4 linked regions of the Homo sapiens genome follow. The protein of the gene in region 1 purifies or fractionates together with the protein of each later gene. This does not show direct contact. Each region holds a gene or a part of one and is shown in the gene's direction. Other genes may lie near its edges.

What was found.
Region 2: the proteins of TNS3 (region 1) and AMBRA1 purify together in Homo sapiens (affinity purification with mass spectrometry, with the first as the bait; one large-scale study listed by BioGRID). This does not show direct contact.
Region 3: the proteins of TNS3 (region 1) and PGM3 purify together in Homo sapiens (affinity purification with mass spectrometry, with the first as the bait; one large-scale study listed by BioGRID). This does not show direct contact.
Region 4: the proteins of TNS3 (region 1) and DMD purify together in Homo sapiens (affinity purification with mass spectrometry; one large-scale study listed by BioGRID and IntAct). This does not show direct contact.

Annotation. Positions count from the first base shown.
Region 1 is NC_000007.14:47,298,171-47,303,475, reverse strand, and holds part of TNS3 (tensin-3), read left to right. Parts: coding exon 1-526; intron 527-1,203; coding exon 1,204-1,290; intron 1,291-5,305. UniProt on the Homo sapiens protein: May act as a protein phosphatase and/or a lipid phosphatase. Involved in the dissociation of the integrin-tensin-actin complex. EGF activates TNS4 and down-regulates TNS3 which results in capping the tail of ITGB1.
Region 2 is NC_000011.10:46,544,622-46,549,023, reverse strand, and holds part of AMBRA1 (activating molecule in BECN1-regulated autophagy protein 1), read left to right. Parts: intron 1-523; 5' UTR 524-643; coding exon 644-778; intron 779-1,148; coding exon 1,149-1,207; intron 1,208-1,727; coding exon 1,728-1,911; intron 1,912-3,247; coding exon 3,248-3,420; intron 3,421-4,402. UniProt on the Homo sapiens protein: Substrate-recognition component of a DCX (DDB1-CUL4-X-box) E3 ubiquitin-protein ligase complex involved in cell cycle control and autophagy.
Region 3 is NC_000006.12:83,175,364-83,179,765, reverse strand, and holds part of PGM3 (phosphoacetylglucosamine mutase), read left to right. Parts: intron 1-1,009; coding exon 1,010-1,093; intron 1,094-3,705; coding exon 3,706-3,804; intron 3,805-4,402. UniProt on the Homo sapiens protein: Catalyzes the conversion of GlcNAc-6-P into GlcNAc-1-P during the synthesis of uridine diphosphate/UDP-GlcNAc, a sugar nucleotide critical to multiple glycosylation pathways including protein N- and O-glycosylation.
Region 4 is NC_000023.11:32,360,648-32,365,049, reverse strand, and holds part of DMD (dystrophin), read left to right. Parts: coding exon 1-30; intron 31-339; coding exon 340-468; intron 469-2,091; coding exon 2,092-2,262; intron 2,263-4,402. UniProt on the Homo sapiens protein: Anchors the extracellular matrix to the cytoskeleton via F-actin. Ligand for dystroglycan.

The DNA of each region.
Region 1 (5,305 bases):
ACCAGGAAGGACTCCCCAGTGCTGTCCTGCTTCCCGCCGTCAGAGCTCCAGGCTCCTTTCCACAGCCATGAGCTGTCCCTAGCAGAGCCACCGGACTCCCTGGCGCCTCCCAGCAGCCAGGCCTTCCTGGGCTTCGGCACCGCCCCAGTGGGAAGTGGCCTTCCGCCCGAGGAGGACCTGGGGGCCTTGCTGGCCAATTCTCATGGAGCGTCACCGACCCCCAGCATCCCGCTGACAGCGACAGGGGCTGCCGACAATGGCTTCCTGTCCCACAACTTTCTCACGGTGGCGCCTGGACACAGCAGCCACCACAGTCCAGGCCTGCAGGGCCAGGGTGTGACCCTGCCCGGGCAGCCACCCCTCCCTGAGAAGAAGCGGGCCTCGGAGGGGGATCGTTCTTTGGGCTCAGTCTCTCCCTCCTCCAGTGGCTTCTCCAGCCCGCACAGCGGGAGCACCATCAGTATCCCCTTCCCAAATGTCCTTCCCGACTTTTCCAAGGCTTCAGAAGCGGCCTCACCTCTGCCAGGTAGGTGTGTTTCCAGCTGGTTGGAAGGGCCCCTCTGTCCATTCACTGGGGAAGGGAAGGGTTCAGACCTGCAGCTGAGCTGGCATATCTCTAGTGCTGGGCTGGGCACCTGGAGAGGAAATCCAGAGCCGTTGGGGTACTTTTCCATTTTCCTCGTCCAAAACCAAGCACTGGCTCAGGCTTTTCATTCACTCTTCTTGGCTTCTGTGTTTGGCCACCTTGGATTCCTTCCAGTTGTAGAAAGTGCAGACATTTGCAGTGGTTCTACTTTCCATGTCACTTGGGAACATGGCTTTTTGTAAATAACAAATTCCTTGTCAAATTAAATTAATTCATCCAAAACGTCATTATGAAATATTTCAAGTGTATAAGAAGCAGTGTGGTCTATGGGTTGAACAACACCAACCTTACCCTCTCTTTCCTCACTACCTTCCTATGTATTCTTAAAATGTATTGCAAAGGCTCAATCCAAGCATCCTGTTGTTCTGTTTTGTGTTATAAAACAGTCACTGCCTCCTCCAACTCAGTCATTTCAAAGGCAGGGTTCCCTTTCCTTAGAACATCGCTCGCTTGCTTGCCCTTGGCATGGGATTTGGACTTCTGGGATCACAGCAGATGAGAGGTTGCAAGAAGAAAAGTGCCCATCATGGTCACTGTTTTTAAATTTTGCTTTACAGATAGTCCAGGTGATAAACTTGTGATCGTGAAATTTGTTCAAGACACTTCCAAGTTCTGGTACAAGGCGGATATTTCAAGAGAACAAGGTATGTGGGGAGGATGAGGGCCTCCTTGGGCATCTGCCCTAGTGCCCGCTTCGCTGCCTTGTGTGAAGATGGGCCCTGCGGTGGGAACATCGGGCAGCCGTGGCCTTCATATGGATTGAGTTTGAGCAGGGCCCACACGTTATTCCATGCCTCCTGGGGACATGCTACAACCTTTAAGTTTTTATAGGGGAAAACTCACTACTAATGAGGGAGTTGGTGAGGAATGGGCCCCAGCCATGAGCATTCCAGTGTGTAGGGTGTAATTTCTGGCTGCTTGCACCAGCCACTGGCTTGCCAGTGATGCCAGCCCACAACTGCTGACTGTGAGGAGGAGACACACTCTCCTGCATCTCCATGAAACCAGAGAGGACAGGGTGAGGAAGCAGGAGAGACACCCTCCTCTGAGAAGTCAGGGACACTGTGTGTTTGTGAACACCTACATAAGCACTTAATAATGAGACCCGGTTGTGGACTTAGCCGCATGCCTCACACACAAACCAGACAGAGCATCTCTCTGCTTGGTACAATGTCAGGCTTTTTTTTTTTTTTTTTCTAATTTGAAATCATTAATACTAATTTTTGAGCAATGAATATTTGAATATTTTGAGCATCACTTTTTACCAGAGCATGAATAGAAGAGATGTGGGAGAGGAAGGCTAGCAAGCTCTTCTGGGCAGCCCTGCTTGGAGACAGCCCCTGGGCAATGAGGAGAATTCATAAGGTGCTTCCCTCGGCTGTGGGATGGCTTTTCTCCCTGGATGCTGTGTCTCAGCTGAGCGTACCTTCCTCTGGATACCTCATTTTGGCAGTGCATAGAGTTTGTTGCTTCTGGGATATACCTCAGAAGAGATGGTGTGTGACTGGCAAGGCAGGGCAGGGCCATGCCTCCAGTGCCTGGAAGACGGAGTCAGGATTCCTAGGAACCAAAGTGAATCCCGGTGGCCACCTGGTGGAGGCTGGAGTGAAAGAGGGAATGGGTTGGTTTAAAGCGGTGAGAAATGACAAGCTGCCCGCAGTCAGCAGGAGACCCACTTGGCTCCTCTGTGCCTCTTTACCTCAACTTCAGAAGAAAATCAAGCTCTCTCCTTATGAAGATGCCTCAGGAATGCCTAGAAATGAATAGTTGAGTGGCAGAAAAATAGCTCTGTCCAGCTCTCCACTGAAATTCTGCTATTCAGTTATGTAGATGACAGAAATGGTAAGAATGTGCATCTCTTATGATCTCAAAGAAGCGATTGTCATTTTAAGTGGAAGAGAGAGAAAAAAAAGCCTGTGGCCTGGAAAGACCTTCATTTCCCTGAATTGGCCTTTGTGAAACACTGCTCACCATGGCTGAGGGCCTCTCTGCGGCCGGATGCTGTGTGCCTGTTGCCACCACCCTGGCCCTGCTTGTGTCTCAAGAATCCCGATGACTGTGGCCCCCAGTGCCTCGGCACCTCCTCCAGCTGGCCAAACTGAGAGGTGCCTATCCAGCACCTAAGAGATTCTGCACAGACCCTTCCACTCTATTGGTGCCGTCTTCTAGGGCAGGGCGATGTGTGGGGCTGGATGCCCCCTTCTCTCATTGTGCAATGTCATTGTAGCAGGGGGGATCTGAAACAGACAGATTTGGGTTGGAGTGCACTGCTGGCTTCCTCGGCAGGGTAGCAAGGTTCGAGCCTGCCGCGGGGGTTTGCTGAGAGCAGTGCCATGTGGAAGGTACCTGCCCTTGCTGGCGCCTGGTAGATGCAGGATAAGTGGATGTGGATGTGCAGTATGTGTAGGGGCTGCTGTTGGCATGTGCTTGATCTTCAGCACACATTGTAGAAGGTTTGCTGGGAGGACCCCATCTCAGGATGGCCAACATGTGCATCGAGTGTTGGTTTTTCCAGCTGAGCTCTAAAAGGATAACTTTCATTTTCTACATATTTTACATAGAAGAGACCTGTGCAGACGAACCTTCTACTGCCCGTGTCAGAGTCTCCAAACAGCGGAAGGCTGCCCTTGGGTGTCATTTATTTGGATTTTAACTGTCAGATGTGCCTTTTTCTAGAAAAGCTACAATGACATTTCAGGGTGATGCAGGAGGAAAAAAAACACCCAGATAACCTCTTTGGGAGTGCAATTTGTCACATACTTAATTCCTTGAGGTTTCTTAAAGCTAACATAAAAATACCTCAGGAGGAAAAGAGGACCTTAAAGTAAAATCAAAATTAAGTACTACTGTCCCAGTTGTACTTCTGGGGTGTTGCTTCTCCAGATGCTTCTCCAGATGCAGGGCGCGACAGTGTGAGAAGGTGCGAGGAGACTCACTTGCCTCCCCTCCCCTCATCCCTGTCTCCAGGTGAGGAATGCGATGCCAGTGCCAGGGTGGAGCACGCAGCTGCTGTGTGCAGTGTGTGGACGCTCGTTTTTCCAACTTCAGCACACCAGGCTCCTCAGCCTACTTCTGTTTGGAAAAACAGCGGGTCTAAAATTCTCCTCTTACTCCCATTGCCTGTGCAGGAGAGCACAGCCCCCTTGCACCCCTGCAGCCTGGCAGCTGGGGCTTCCCTCCTGGCATGGGGAGAACTGGTCGGAGCAAAGCCCGTGTTCCCTCCACTGCCATCCACAGGTGCCCAAAGTCTCAGTCCCGTGAGGCTTCTACACTTTATTTACCACAGAGAAGTAGAACCATGACTTACAAAAAGAAAAGCTCTGAGGTATATCACAGTTGAAACAAAATGTAAGTGATCTTTTGTCCTACTTAGAGAAAACAAAAAAGTAGGCCCGGCGCAGTGACTCACTCCTATAATCCCAGCAACTTAGGGAAGCTGAGGTGGGAGGATCACTTGAGCCCAGGAGTTTAAGGCCAGCCTGGGCAACATAGTGAGACCCAGTGTCTACCAAAAATTTTTAAAAATTAGCTGGGTGTGGTGGTGTACACTTGTAGTCCCAGCTACTCAGGAAGCTGAGGTGGGAGGATCACTTGGGCCCAGCAGGTTGAGGCTGCAGTGAGCTATGATTGTGTCACTGTACTTCAGTCTGGGCAACAGAGTGAGAGAGCCTATCTCAAAAAAATAAAAATTAAAAACTGAAAAAATGTCATTCACGTTCAGCCCCCAAGTTTATAGACTACGCTGTGAGAAAACGTGCACCAGAATTCAGGGTTTATTCCCAGGGCCTGTGCCCTGCCCCAGGAGGCCCCCCACCCAGCCCTGGGTCCCTTGCATGGGCGGCTGCAGGCCTGGCTGGAGCTACCAGCAGTCTCGGGCATGCACGGTGAGCCTGCCTGTGTTTTCCTGCCCATCCTTCCCACTGCGTGCTGTTTAGAAGCTCCTGCTTCATCCCCAGGGGCATGTTGAGCTCCTCCCCGTGCCCTCATCCTGTGCACAGGGCCACGGTGCAGACATTGAAAAATGTGTAAAAGAAACCATTCGTTTCATCCTATGGCCAGACAGATGCCTTGGCTGTGGGTCCGGTCAGGCCTGGGGGCATGTGAGGGGCCTCTGTGGGAGTGCGCCGTGGAGGTATTTACTGAGGCATGCCGGGGGCATCCCAGCACTTACTGGTTCATGTTCTGCGCCCTGATCGCTTCCAGGCAGAGCCTTTGGCATTCCAGAAAGGCAGCATTTCCATGGCTGTAATTATGTATAACTTTATACTCTAAATCCCCAGTTTTCCCTTTTTTAAAATAAAGAGTAAATGTCTAGAAAAGAAATTCTGAGATGTAGTCTAGTTATCAGGGAACACTCTGGCTTGTCTGGGCAGTATCGAGTTGAGGTTACTATTACCCTAACCCACTCCCTCTTCTTGGAAATGCCAGATTTTGGCCATGAAGGAGAGAGATTTTTTGAAGCAATGATTATGATTAGTTGAATGCCTACCAGCCTCACCAGGGAAGCTGGGTGACCCACTGTGCGAGGCCCTGGGTTGGCGGGCACATGGGGAATGTGTCCTCAGCCCCATCCAGGCTGGGCCCATTTGGCCACATCAGCCATGGAGCCACGGGATAGGGGGCCACCTGCAGGCCAGGTTTTTGTTACTTCCTTGGTGA
Region 2 (4,402 bases), on another chromosome or scaffold:
AAAGGTACTCCTAAATAATCTTTTTTTTTTTGAGATGGAGTCTTGCTCTGTCGCCCAGGCACTGGAGTGCAATGGCACTATCTCAGCTCTCTGCAACTTCTGCGTCCTGGGTTCAAGCAATTCTCCTGCTTCAGTCTGATGAGTAGCTGGGATTACAGGTGCCTGCCACCACACCCGGCTAATTTTTGTATTTTAGTAGAGACGGGGTTTCACCATGTTGGCCAGGCTGTCTCAAACTCCTGACCTCAAGCAATCCAATCTCCTTGGCTTCCCAAAGTTCGGGGATTACAGGCGTGAGCCACTGTGCTTGGCCTGATCCTTTCTTTAGCTACAAGGTTGAGCTATGGAGAATATGAGAGTATGAAATATTTTTGGAAGAAAAATTCTGGGAGGAAGGGTCTTTTCTGAGAAAGTGTCATTAAATAGGAAAAGTATAATTTCCCTTTTGAGCTAGAATTGTATTTGCAATTAGAAGCTTCTCGTTGCAGAAGTCGTTCTTTGACATTATTCTTTGTTCCTTAAGATTTCCATGAGGACAACTTACAAGGACCTGTATGGCCTCATTTTAGCTGCTTCAGTGTGTTGGAGCTGTTACTTGCTCCTTCATTTCCTGGGCCTGGTGTGACAGTGGCTACTGAGCGCCATGAAGGTTGTCCCAGAAAAGAATGCTGTCCGGATACTCTGGGGGCGAGAACGGGGTGCTCGGGCCATGGGAGCTCAGCGGCTTCTGCAGGAGCTGGTAGAAGATAAAACCCGGTGGATGAAATGGGAGGGCAAGGTAAGGAAAATGGCTATATTTCACATAGGATTTGTGCTGGTGATGGTAGAATGAGACCTTAGAATGGGTTAACAGCAGAGAGTTGGGATATATTTATCTTGTGTGGGAGAGTTGACATATCTGACTTAGGGAGTTGTTTGTAAATTTGAAAGAACTAATGTGCTAGAAATATCTTTTTCCTTTAGAGCTAGACAGTTTTCCTGAAGGTAATTTAGGTTTATCTCTCTCAATTTGTAGCTTGATCATTGTCTCCAGTTTTTAAGCCTACACTGTGAATGCTAATCTAGAATGGTTAATGTGCTTTTGAGATACGGTGAACCATGGTCTACAAATCATGTATTTTAACTTTTTTTTTTTTTTTGTCTCCCAGAGAGTAGAACTGCCGGATAGTCCACGCTCTACCTTCTTATTGGCCTTCAGCCCAGACAGGTACTCAGTATTTATCTATAACTTAAGATTTGTGATAACAGTGCTTTCTGTATATTTGGCCTGGCTTGATCTTCCAAGTCAGTCCCTAAAGTCTCTCTGAAGTACTGTATGAACAGCACTTTGGCCCCGTGTCGGAAAGGGAAAGAAAGTAGATGAGCAGTGCTAACCTGAAAAATCATGAGAACAAGCAAAGGAAACTGAGAGGATCAAAACTTGGAAAGTTTCTCAATAACAATCATTTGCCTGTGTGATACAGCTCACCAGTGGTATGATGGTTTTTCCAGTGGGAAAAAATATTTTCCGAATGTGGCATGTGTCATTTGGGGACAGTGTGGACAAGCCAAAAGCTTTTAAAGATCAGAATATTTCTGTTTGTAGATATACTGCCTAACATACAAAGCTTAGTTTCTTTCATGTTGGGATTGGCAGGTAGCATCAATATTCTATGTCGTCCAAAGTTGATAAGATTGGTTACCCTTCCACATGCTTCTGAATTCAGTTCTACTCTTTGATTTTCTAGGACTCTCTTAGCCTCCACCCATGTGAACCATAATATCTATATTACGGAGGTGAAGACTGGCAAGTGTGTTCATTCCCTGATTGGACACCGCCGTACTCCATGGTGTGTCACTTTTCATCCCACCATCTCAGGCCTTATTGCTTCTGGCTGCCTAGATGGGGAGGTTAGGATTTGGGATTTACACGTGAGTATTTCCTTAAGATACCCTTTTCTTTTGGTGTTCTAATTTTTTTTTTTTGAGACGGAGTCTCGCTCTGTTGCCCAGTGGTGTGATCTTGGCTCGCTGCAACCTCCGTCTCCCAGGTTCAAGTGATACTTCTGCTTCAGCCTCCCAAGTAGCTGGGATTACAGGCATGTGCCATCATGCCTGGCTCATTTTTGTGTTTTTAGTAGAGACGGGGATTCACTATGTTGGCCAGGCTGATCTTGAACTCCTGACCTCAAGTGGTCTGCCTGCCTCGGCCTCCCAAAGTGCTGGGATTACAGGCATGAGCCACCATGCCCGGCTTCTTTTGGTATTCTAAATGCAGAGACTTGTTTACCATTGGTTTTTTAATTCTGGAAGAGCCTAGCCAGATTCTTAGGACTACATCTGAATATATTGTTGTAGACATTGCCCACTTAATTAATAGGAAGTCTAATTCCCTGTCTTCCATTCCTTTTTTTTTTTTTTGCAATAGCTTAAGCATGCCCTGAGATTGTCTTCCATTCTTGCTAAGATGAACATCTACTTTTGCTTCCTTCAGCCCGTTGTGACATAGTACAGGAGGCTCTAAGATATGTTCAGGTTGGATTTCTGTTGTCTTAGGGCATCTTTGCCTAAGTACAGATATTCCTGTACTCCGATCATGATCATCAAAGCAAGATCCTCTTTGTCCTAGTAACTGGCTAGCGGGTTGTCTTGCACCATGTTGTGCACCGAGCTTGAGTTTTTCTCAGGCTTTGCATGGAACTGTGGGCTGGGCGCGGTGGCTCACGCCTGTATTCCTAGCACTTCAGGAGACCAAGACAGGAGGATTGCTTGAGTTCAGGAGTTTGAGACCAGCCTGGGCAGGATATTATACCAAAAATATTATACACAAAATTATATAAAATTAGCTGAGCATGGTGCCATGCGCCTGTGGTCCCAGCTACTTGGGAGGCTGAGGTGCGAGGATTGCTTGAGCCTAGGAGGCAGAGGTTGCAGTGTGCTGAGATTGTGCCACTGCACTCCAGCCTGGGTGACAGAATGAAACCCCCTGTCAAAAAAAAAAAAAAAAAAAAGAAATAGGAACTGTGTATATATGCTTAATGCTTGTAGATTGTGACTAATTTGAAGAACTGAACTGATTGTATAGTATTTATCTGATAAATTAGTGGCACTACCAGATCGCTGATCTTCTACATCTTTTTACAGAGGATGTATTTAAAGTAGTCCCTAGACATAGTCATTTTACCTTAAATGGACCTTTCTTGAAATTGACTTCCCAGTGTGCTGGTAGCTTGTAACCTGAGAATATCTGGAATTGGTTCATTCACAGGGTGGCAGTGAAAGCTGGTTCACAGATAGCAACAATGCCATTGCCTCCCTGGCTTTCCACCCTACGGCTCAGCTCCTGCTGATTGCCACTGCCAATGAGATCCACTTCTGGGACTGGAGTCGACGGGAACCCTTTGCTGTGGTGAAGACAGCTAGTGAGATGGAACGGGTCCGGTGAGTGCGCTGCCCCATCTGCATTGTCTGGCACAGGACTGACGTGATAGAGAACATTCTACTGGCTGTCACCTTGGAAGTCAGGTTGTTATCCCTGCTCAGGGCAAGTTGTCATCCTCATAGCTCCTCCTATTTTTTTTTTGAGACAGGGTGTCACTCTGTCACCCAGGGTGGAGTGCAGTGGCGCAGTCTTGTCTCACTGCGACCTCTGCCTCCTAGGTTCAAGCGATTCTCGTGCCTCAGCCTCCAGAGTAGCTGGGATTGCAGGCACCCACCACCATGCCCGGCTCATTTTTTTGTATTTTTAATAAAGATAGGGTTTCACCATGTTGTCCAGGATGGTCTTGAACTCCTGGCCTTAAGTGATCCGCCCACCTCAGCCTCCCAAAGTGCTGTGATTACAGGCATGAGCCACCATGCCCACCACCACCCCCCCCCCCCCGGCTTTTTTTTTTTTTTTAAGGAGACAGGGTCTTGCTCTGTTACCCAGGCTGGAGTACAGTTGTGCAGTCATGACCTCATGGGCCCAAGTTACTGCAGCCTTGACCTCATGGGCCCAAGCAATCCTCCCACCTCAGTCTTATGAGTATCTGGGACTACAGGTGTGTGCAGCCTCTCTCAGCTAATTTTTAAATTTTTTCGTAGAGATTTGGGGGGCGGGGCCTCACTGTGTTACCCAGGCTAGTCTCGAACTACTGGCCTTCAGTGATCCTCCTGCTTTAGCCTCCCAAAGTATTGGGATTATAGGTATGAGCCACTGCACCTGGCCGCCTCCTGCTTTCTAAGCAGCTGACTAATCAGCTGGGAGACATTCATTTTGTTCATTTCAGCTTTCCCTTATTGGCCTCATCTTCTGGTTTTTGGAGATCAGGGTCATTAGACTCTCTTTTAGTTTCAAAGCTAACTGTTTTGGATAGTACTTCTTTGGGAAAACCTGAAAGAAGTTTGGGTGGTATTTTAGATACCTTGGTGGGTTGTCTGT
Region 3 (4,402 bases), on another chromosome or scaffold:
TGAAATAGTTCCATATTTTACAATCATTTGTCAGAAGGGCACAATTTATGACAAATTCTTTACATTAGTGGGCAGAAAATTAAAAAAAGAGCAGTGGTAATACCCAGTCATTTGAACATTTGAGGCATTGGCTTTGGAACCTGAAGGTACTCTTTTCCTCCTTATACTGGCTGAGTTTTGTGATTTGAAGCTTTAGGAAGTTTTGCTTCCATCATAATTGAAACTTTGATGACAGTTCTGTGGTCACTCCATAAAAGCCCTAAATTCTAATAGGAAATCTCATCATCTGATATATTAACTGATTATGATAAGCTTAGTAATGTGAGATTTGTTTCATTTTGCTATTTTAGAAATAAATCTCAGGCTAGCTTTAAGTACACAATGTAATTGGAAATTATTATAATCTGGAAACAGCATACTTTAAGAATTTAATAGATTTTTTTTTTTTTTTTTTTTGAGACAGTGTTGCTCTGTTGCCCAGGCTGGAGTGCAGGGGCGTGATCTCGGCTCATTGCAACCTCTGCCTCCCTGGGCTCAAGCAATTCTTCTGCCTCAGCCTCCCAAGTAGCTGGGATTACAGATGCATGCCACCACACCTGGCTAATTTTTGTACTTTTAGTAGAGATGGGGTTTCACCATGTTGGCCAGGCTGGTCTCGAACTTTTGACCTCAGGTGATCCACCCACCTTGGCCTCCCAGAGTGCTGGGATTACAGGCGTGAGCCACCGTGCCTGGCCAGATACTTTTATTTAAAAAATTAAAGAGGTGAAGATCAGGAGATACAGGCTTCTTAAAAGAGGAATTCTCATAGAATTGTTTTAAATAGTGTTCAAATGTATTTTAGGCTTTTTTCCTGGCATACATGTAAATTTTCAGTCAGACATTTTTGGCATAAACTAAGGCACAACTGAACTGGCTGATAATTTTGGTAGCCTTTAGAACTCTCATTATATTTGTTTTTGTAGACCATACTTTTGATGGCAAGTTAAGTATCATTGTTTTTGTCTAGATTGGAGAAAGTTTGAATATTGGTGTTGTACAAACTGCATATGCAAATGGAAGTTCAACACGGTATCTTGAAGAAGTTATGAAGGTATTGAACCATTTTTGTTTTCTGGTAGTTTCTTAATTAAGATCATGTTTCTGTGAGAAAGATACTGCCCTCATAAAAGTGATTATGTTGTAGTGCATGAAGCTGAGCTGCTGTTCATGTAAAGGTAAAGAGAAATAAATAAGAAAAAATTTAGTTGTCCTTGATGAATAAAGGAAAACTTCTTTCCTTCCTTTTCTTGGAGTTTTCCTTTAGAAAACTTGGAATTCTTTCTCTGTGCCTTTGTAATGAATGTAAGTCTTTCTAAAGGCCTAATAAGCCAGTTTTATAGCTCAGGAATACTTTTCTTTAAGGGCCTAGAGTCACCAATTTCAAATATAAACATCAAGGAAGATAGCTCACCTATCTCCCAGTCTCAGGAGAGTTTAACTTAGGTGTTTGCGTCCAATTTGTAACTATCTACCTGTCACAGAGGTATGAAAAGTTTTATTACTCCTTTAGAGAAGGGCAGTTAACACAGGTGGCCATCCCTATTACCAAGTAAGTTTAGGATAAACTATGTGTGTGACAAATGGTGGTTTCAAGTTTTCCTATTTGAGGACTAGTGTTAAAGAAAAAATAATTCATGACACTTGTTAAAATGGTAAGGCAGACTTGATTCAGGACTGTTGTGATAGGTACAGGGACTAATGTGATGGAGTTTTGCAGTGGTAGGAGAAAGATTGGGCTCAACTCCAAATATAGTAAGGAAAAGTAGGGCTTTATAGCCAAGGAGCAGGGTGTGTGGGGGGTGGTCAGTGGATGAAAAATTACTGAGAGGAAACATGAGGGTAAGTGGGTGGTATTTTGGCTAAACTGATCTAACAGGACTTTTGCTGAAGGTAGGCCAGGGCGGTCACATATTACCTGGGGGATGGTAGAGAATGAGAACTCAGATCAGATGTCAAGAGTGGTCATGTATCAGGATGAGGGATTCTCGCTAAGCTCACTTAGCATGACTCTTATTAAAATCGGGCTATTGGAAGACATGCCTAAGGACAAGGCCTAGTCAGGCCCACCTAAACCTAACTAAAGTTTGGTCAAGGAGAGAATTTTTGTCATTAGCCATCTTTTATCTTAGCAAATTGTATTGGAATGTGTCCGCTTGGCTATATTAAAGGGTGAGCGTTTATCTTTGCTATCTCTTAGCAAATTAGCCTGTGATTGAACATCAGTTTGGCTTAATACTTATTCAGTAATAAAACTGTTTCTTACCCTTCTTTTTTTTTTGGAGAGGTTTTCTGGGGTGGTGGGAGATTCTGTTTCTAATTATTTCCCCGGTGTCCACCAGGTGACCACCCTTGGCACCACACTACTTGCTCGGAGAGTTACCAGGGTTCATGGACAAAACTGGAAGTCTGTTTGCCTATACTTTCTCATTATCGAGAAGTTTTCCAACTTTTTTGTACCTCATTTTGTACCTCGTTCTGGCATTTATACTAGTTTTAGTTACCTTTCCATTCTCTAGAAAGCAGGAATTACAAAGTCAGATTCCTGCAGGATTTGGACAGGTAAAGTGAATGAGGGCAGCAGGGGGCTAAAAACAGGTCAGTATGTGCCAGCTGATGTCAACTGTAGTCACACTCTTCAAGAGAAGCAGGAAATCTGAATTTTCATGTGATGTTCCTATTTGTTTAAAAAGAAACAGTGGCTGGGCAAAACGAAATATATCTTGAGGCTGCTAGTTTATGACCTGATTTTAATATATGGTTATAATAAGCTCATTCAAGGGATTCCATCTGGGGCCCATTTGCCTGCCTTTCACAGGGATTGGGTTATTTCACAGTACTTGGGTTATTGTTTTAGGATTTTCATTTTCTGTCTTAAAAATTTATTACAGATAAAATAACCTAGTTTAAGAAACTGTTACTTCTCAACTCACTGTCTTCCAGATGAAATATTTTTAGCCCTTGCCATTCCTGAGGTCTCCTACATCCAATCTAATGCTGATCTTTCTTTTGCAGTTTTTCTACTATCAATCTTTCCTTAACCATTCTTAAAGCTCTCTCAGATCCATCCATCCATGACTTTCCCTATTCACTATTGCTGATCCAGCCACTATTTCTTACTGGGATTAGTCCTAGAAGCCTCCTCATTCCATTTCTTAACCTTCTAATTGAACTTGCTGCTATTTGCAAACAAAGTTTTATTGGAATAGAGCTATGTTGATTTGTTTATGTATGGTCTGTGGCTGCTTTTGCACTGTAATGGCAGAGTAATTGTGACAGAGACCATATGGCCTGCAAAGCCTAAAATATTTACTGTCTGGCCTGTTACAGAAAAAGCTTGCAATTCTGCTCTAAGCTATTCTCCACACTGTAGCTAAACAGCTTTCTAAAACAGTTAGGTCATGTCACGCCCCCACTTGTAATCTTTCGTGTCTTATAAGGAGACCCTCATCTCTCTCACCGTGCTTTACCCTTGGCTGCGTGCTTCCAGAGTGTGTTCATGCTTCCATTGTATACGTACCATTTTGTATTTTAATGCTTAATCGTCTTCCTCACTGGACTCGGCCCCAGTATTTTGTTCCCCTTTGTATCTCTGGGATACTAGGTATGCAAGAAACATTTGACATCTGAGTAATTGCTGTATTTCTTTAAATGCATGTGTTATAGGTACCTGTCTATTGCACTAAGACTGGTGTAAAACATTTGCACCACAAGGCTCAAGAGTTTGACATTGGAGTTTATTTTGAAGCAAATGGGCATGGCACTGTAAGTTCTCTTAATTATAGTTGGCCTTAGCTGGCACTTTTCTTTATGATGAGACTTCTATATCTGGGAGGTAATAATAGGTAATATTGTACTTTGTTGAAATAATTGGATGTGACAAAAAGATCCTTTGGTTATCTTATATATTGATGTATTATGAAACTGTGATTCTCTTTTACATGGTAATGATTCTTCTTTGAATGTGAAGAGATATACTAAGGTGTTTTGAATAGTTTTTTAAAATTTACAGTTCTTAATTTTTTTATAAGTATGTTGTCTATGCATTTTCCGGCTGGCCATAGGAGAGGAAAAGAAAAATTCAGTCGCTATGGTGAATTGCAAAGTGTTGGAAAGTTGATAATTAATAAGAAATGAAAATGAATTTAAGGTAACTAGTGATAGGCATAAAATGTTTCAATTTACATTTTACATAAAATTACATTTTAAAGTGTATAATTTAGTTTTTTGTAGATTCATAATGTTCAGAATATTTTTAAAATGTTTTTATACTCACCTCATTTAATGAATACACTTGAGGTGGCTATCAGAACATTTGAATCAAAGCCAAATAATTTTCCTCATTAATTTAAAATTGGCTTTT
Region 4 (4,402 bases), on another chromosome or scaffold:
CGAGCAGAAGAGTGGTTAAATCTTTTGTTGGTAAGAGAAAAGGCTAGAAGCTTTTACACCCTTCTCTGTCACGAGAAAAAGATACATAAGTGACCAGTAACAATTCTGTGTTTGAAAATTTCTCAATTCTACGTATATGCTGGCTCTTAATTCAATATCTATAACAATATTTTAATATATTTTTCTTTATATTTACGCAATATTCTATATGAAAATACCACTTAAAACTAATCTCAATGAAACTTTATTGTTGTCTTTTAAACATTTTAGAACATAGGAAAAATTCTTTAAGAATATTGTCTAACCAATAATGCCATGGTATGTCTCTGTACAATTAAGGAATACCAGAAACACATGGAAACTTTTGACCAGAATGTGGACCACATCACAAAGTGGATCATTCAGGCTGACACACTTTTGGATGAATCAGAGAAAAAGAAACCCCAGCAAAAAGAAGACGTGCTTAAGGTAGCAAATAAAATATGAAAAGTAATGTCCAAATTGTACACCAGTTACTTCAATCATCTTTGTCCTAAAAGATACTAAGGACGTCTTAATAAGAGTAAAACAATCCTTTCTTCCTTCCTTTATCTTTCCCTTTTTCCTTCCTTCCCCCTTTGAATGGAAATGAATGATTTTGAAGAGTTCTGTAATCTGACTTTCTGTTCAAATCCATCACTCAGTTAATTATACCCAATGTAAACTCCGTTCAGAAAGATATTCCAAGATTTATTTTGAAATCATATTGCAAATTTCTGCCTTTGTCAATGGTGGTACTACATTCTTGTGTCTAACACAAAGAACAATCTGACACTATCATTCATTTAGCCCATCTGAATGAACACCTGAAATCCAGTCAGCTGATTTTTTTGCCTATGCCATATCCAAATCTTGGTAATTAGTCTTAATGTTGGGCTTATGTAAAGCTGAGGTTTTCATTTTTAACTACATGTAAACTAGGCTTTGGGTTCTTTCTTTTAGTCTCAAAACTGACTGTTAGGATGCCCTGTCTTCTTTTTCAAGGGGAACTTAATCTTTTCTTTAAAAAATGATTCCGATAAAAGGGTATGAGAGGTGTAATACGCAAATATACCTTATAGACACTACATTGTTTCTATTTGATGATGTCTCTTTTCCCAATTAAATAGGTAGAGTTGAATTTTAACAGCTCTCTTTTCAATAAACATTTTTTATTTTGTTTTGCTGCAATGTTTGATAAATTTATTGATTAGTTGTTTACTATTTAAAGAAAACTCAAAAATTATGTTTCTTTCTATGCAATTTATTTTTATGCCTCTGATATTTTCCACAGATTACGATATACCTTTAATGAAAAACTATAAATTCATTCCAGGCTATCCCCAAAACACATTTATGCCATTGTCTGAAGCTTATTTTGATGTGGATCTGTATTGTGCTCTTCATTATCCCTTGATGTATAGTCAGAGATGTCATCTTATGGTGAATTTCCTTCAAGGCTTTTTGAATAATAGGGTCTGAGTTATTTAACTTCAACCTCTGTGACCCGGCAGGTCAGGAAGAACATTCCTCAGTACCTCTGTATGTGACAGAAAATTCGTATGTGTTAGAAAATCACTTTTTTTCTTATGACACTCAATGTAATAAAGAGGAACTTGAAAGTGCTAGGAAGGAATAGAAAAGTGTTCTTCAGCTACCTGACCTCCTGAGCACATACTTAGTTCATTCCACAACTATTAAATTCAGTAACGATATAATAAAATAAGACTAAATAGAATATATTATGATAGTTGCAACAACATAGTTGGGAAAACATCCCTGTCCTTCCTCGGACTAAATAAACATTTTAAATAGACATGCATCAAACTTAAGGACGGTGATCTATTTTTCTGAAATCACACGCATTTTCATTTTAGTCCTGTTTTATGGAAGTTGTGGTTTTATCTCCCTTTGTATTTTCTGCATGTGCTTGCTCTCATTTTCTTACTTTCTCTCTCTCTCTTTCTCACTCTTCTCGCTCACTTGCTCACTCGCTCTGTTTGGCTCTCTTTTTCTATCTTGACCTTCATTAATTACTAACTTCAAGTCCTATCTCTTGCTCATGGAATATAGCGTTTAAAGGCAGAACTGAATGACATACGCCCAAAGGTGGACTCTACACGTGACCAAGCAGCAAACTTGATGGCAAACCGCGGTGACCACTGCAGGAAATTAGTAGAGCCCCAAATCTCAGAGCTCAACCATCGATTTGCAGCCATTTCACACAGAATTAAGACTGGAAAGGTAGGAAGATCTACTCCAAGGTGGAAACTTGTGCTAAATGGTCTCTTGCGAAGGTTGCGCAGTACTCTGAAAGGGGCAAGTAGACCCCACAGCAAGGTTTTCAAAAGGAAAATGAATGCCAAAATGTATTTAAGGAAATTTTACCACTGATTATAATGGGAGATAAACGCCACTCCTCCCCGTCTCTGTCTCTCTCTGTCTCTCTCTGTCTCTTTTTCTCTCTCATCTTTTGCTGCCATAGATATTCTAGGACTGCATTCTATGCTGCAGTTTACATACGTACTTTCAGGGGTCACCTACAGAAAAAAATAACAAATAGCATGCTGAAGGCCAAAAAAATAAATAAAACCAAAAGCACACAAGTCATCCATCAACATAAAGCACTACCGATAAATTTTGCCAAAAGCAGTACTGATACAATATTGCTTGTATGTAATGTGGATCAAATATCCAAAATGAGGTCTTGTACATCTTCTGCACGGTCTAGGGTGTTTTTTTACCTCTTTACTGGTTGTGCAAGTGTGTTTGTTTAACTTGCTTTTGCTAGTTGTAGACACTGTGACAAAATTCATTAGGCTATAATGAAATGATCACGCCATGAAAACAAATCATTGCAAAGCTTACATATCCTAATTTTTGTAATTTTATATGCCTATTTATATTACTGTTTAAGAAGAACCAGGGAATATGGAACTTTTGCGTGATAGACTTTATATTTGTGTATGATTTGATGAAGAGAAAGTCTTATTTAATAAGTAGTTTGCAAAAATGTATAAATATAGTGTTATAGAATTTCAGCTCTTTGGGAAGATTTGAAATGCAAGTAATTACCTAGAAATTTATATACTGTAGTTTGATAAATTTCAATATATATGATATGCTTTCAAACATAAAAATGTATATAAAATCAATATATGTATTTAGGTATATAGATAATTGTTAGAAATAATCTGAAATGAAAAAAACATTGGAGTATTTATGAGAAAATATGATGCAGTATGTCAGGTAAGTATTGATTCCTGGAAAAATAGAACATTTTCAAAAAATATTTTGATAGATATAAGCAACCAGTAATAGCATGGTTTCACAATTGCTGCACTTTCTAAGGCATTACAGTGTCTCATCATGTTATATAATAGTACATATTTAAAGTAGTTTTCAAAATAAGTGAAATGTGACATGATAAATTCTAAATAGTTTAGCTTGTATGCATGAGACACAGTTACCCTTCAAAATTCACCTTCCCAAATTAAAAAGTTGTTAGTTTACCTTAATTCATTGCAAGTTATTTTTAATAGTTAACTACTTAGTTCTCTTGTACTCTCTCTCTCCATACATAGAGACCTTATATAGTTGACTTTTAAAAGGCTATATTCTCTACATATGGAGAGAGACAGCATGAGAGAACTTAGTAGTTAACTGTCACAAATATATATATTTGAGTCAGTCATTATTACCTGCAAAAAAATGTGACAGGCTCTTAAAATTGATTAAAGTTTTGAAAGAATGTATTGTTACTTACAAAGACAATTGTTTTTACTTCTAAAGATATCAATGGCTTATGTAATAACAAGACAATGAATGGAGATTTATTTCAATCCTTAAAAAATGCTACTACTTCATTACTAAGATATAGACACACACACATGCACATTTTAATAAATCACTAAGCTATAGAATATTTAAGAGAAAATAAGGTATTATCTTTGGATAAATTGTGTTACAAGATTGTGGTTCACAGATATTAAAAAATGGGTAGAATTTGCTCTCCACCACAGATGTGACAGACCCAGCCAATACAAGTTTGTGACCAAGACAAGTTTGTGAGTTTTCATTTCACATTCTGCATGAATTTGTAAGTATACTTCTGGAAATCATGCATAAAGTGATCCACTCTATGAACTTCTTTTATTTTCCCTAGAAACATAAGGCATAAGAAATTTCCAGTGAATATTCATTTATTATTATTATTATTATTATTATTATTTTGTGTGTGTGTGTGTGGTGGAGACTCTCTCTGTTGCCCAGGCTGGAGTGCTGTGGCATAACCTCAGCTCACTGCAACCTCTGCCTCCTGGAATCAAGTGATTCTCCTGCCTCAGCCTCCCAAGTAGCTGGGATTACGGGCGGGCGCCGTGAC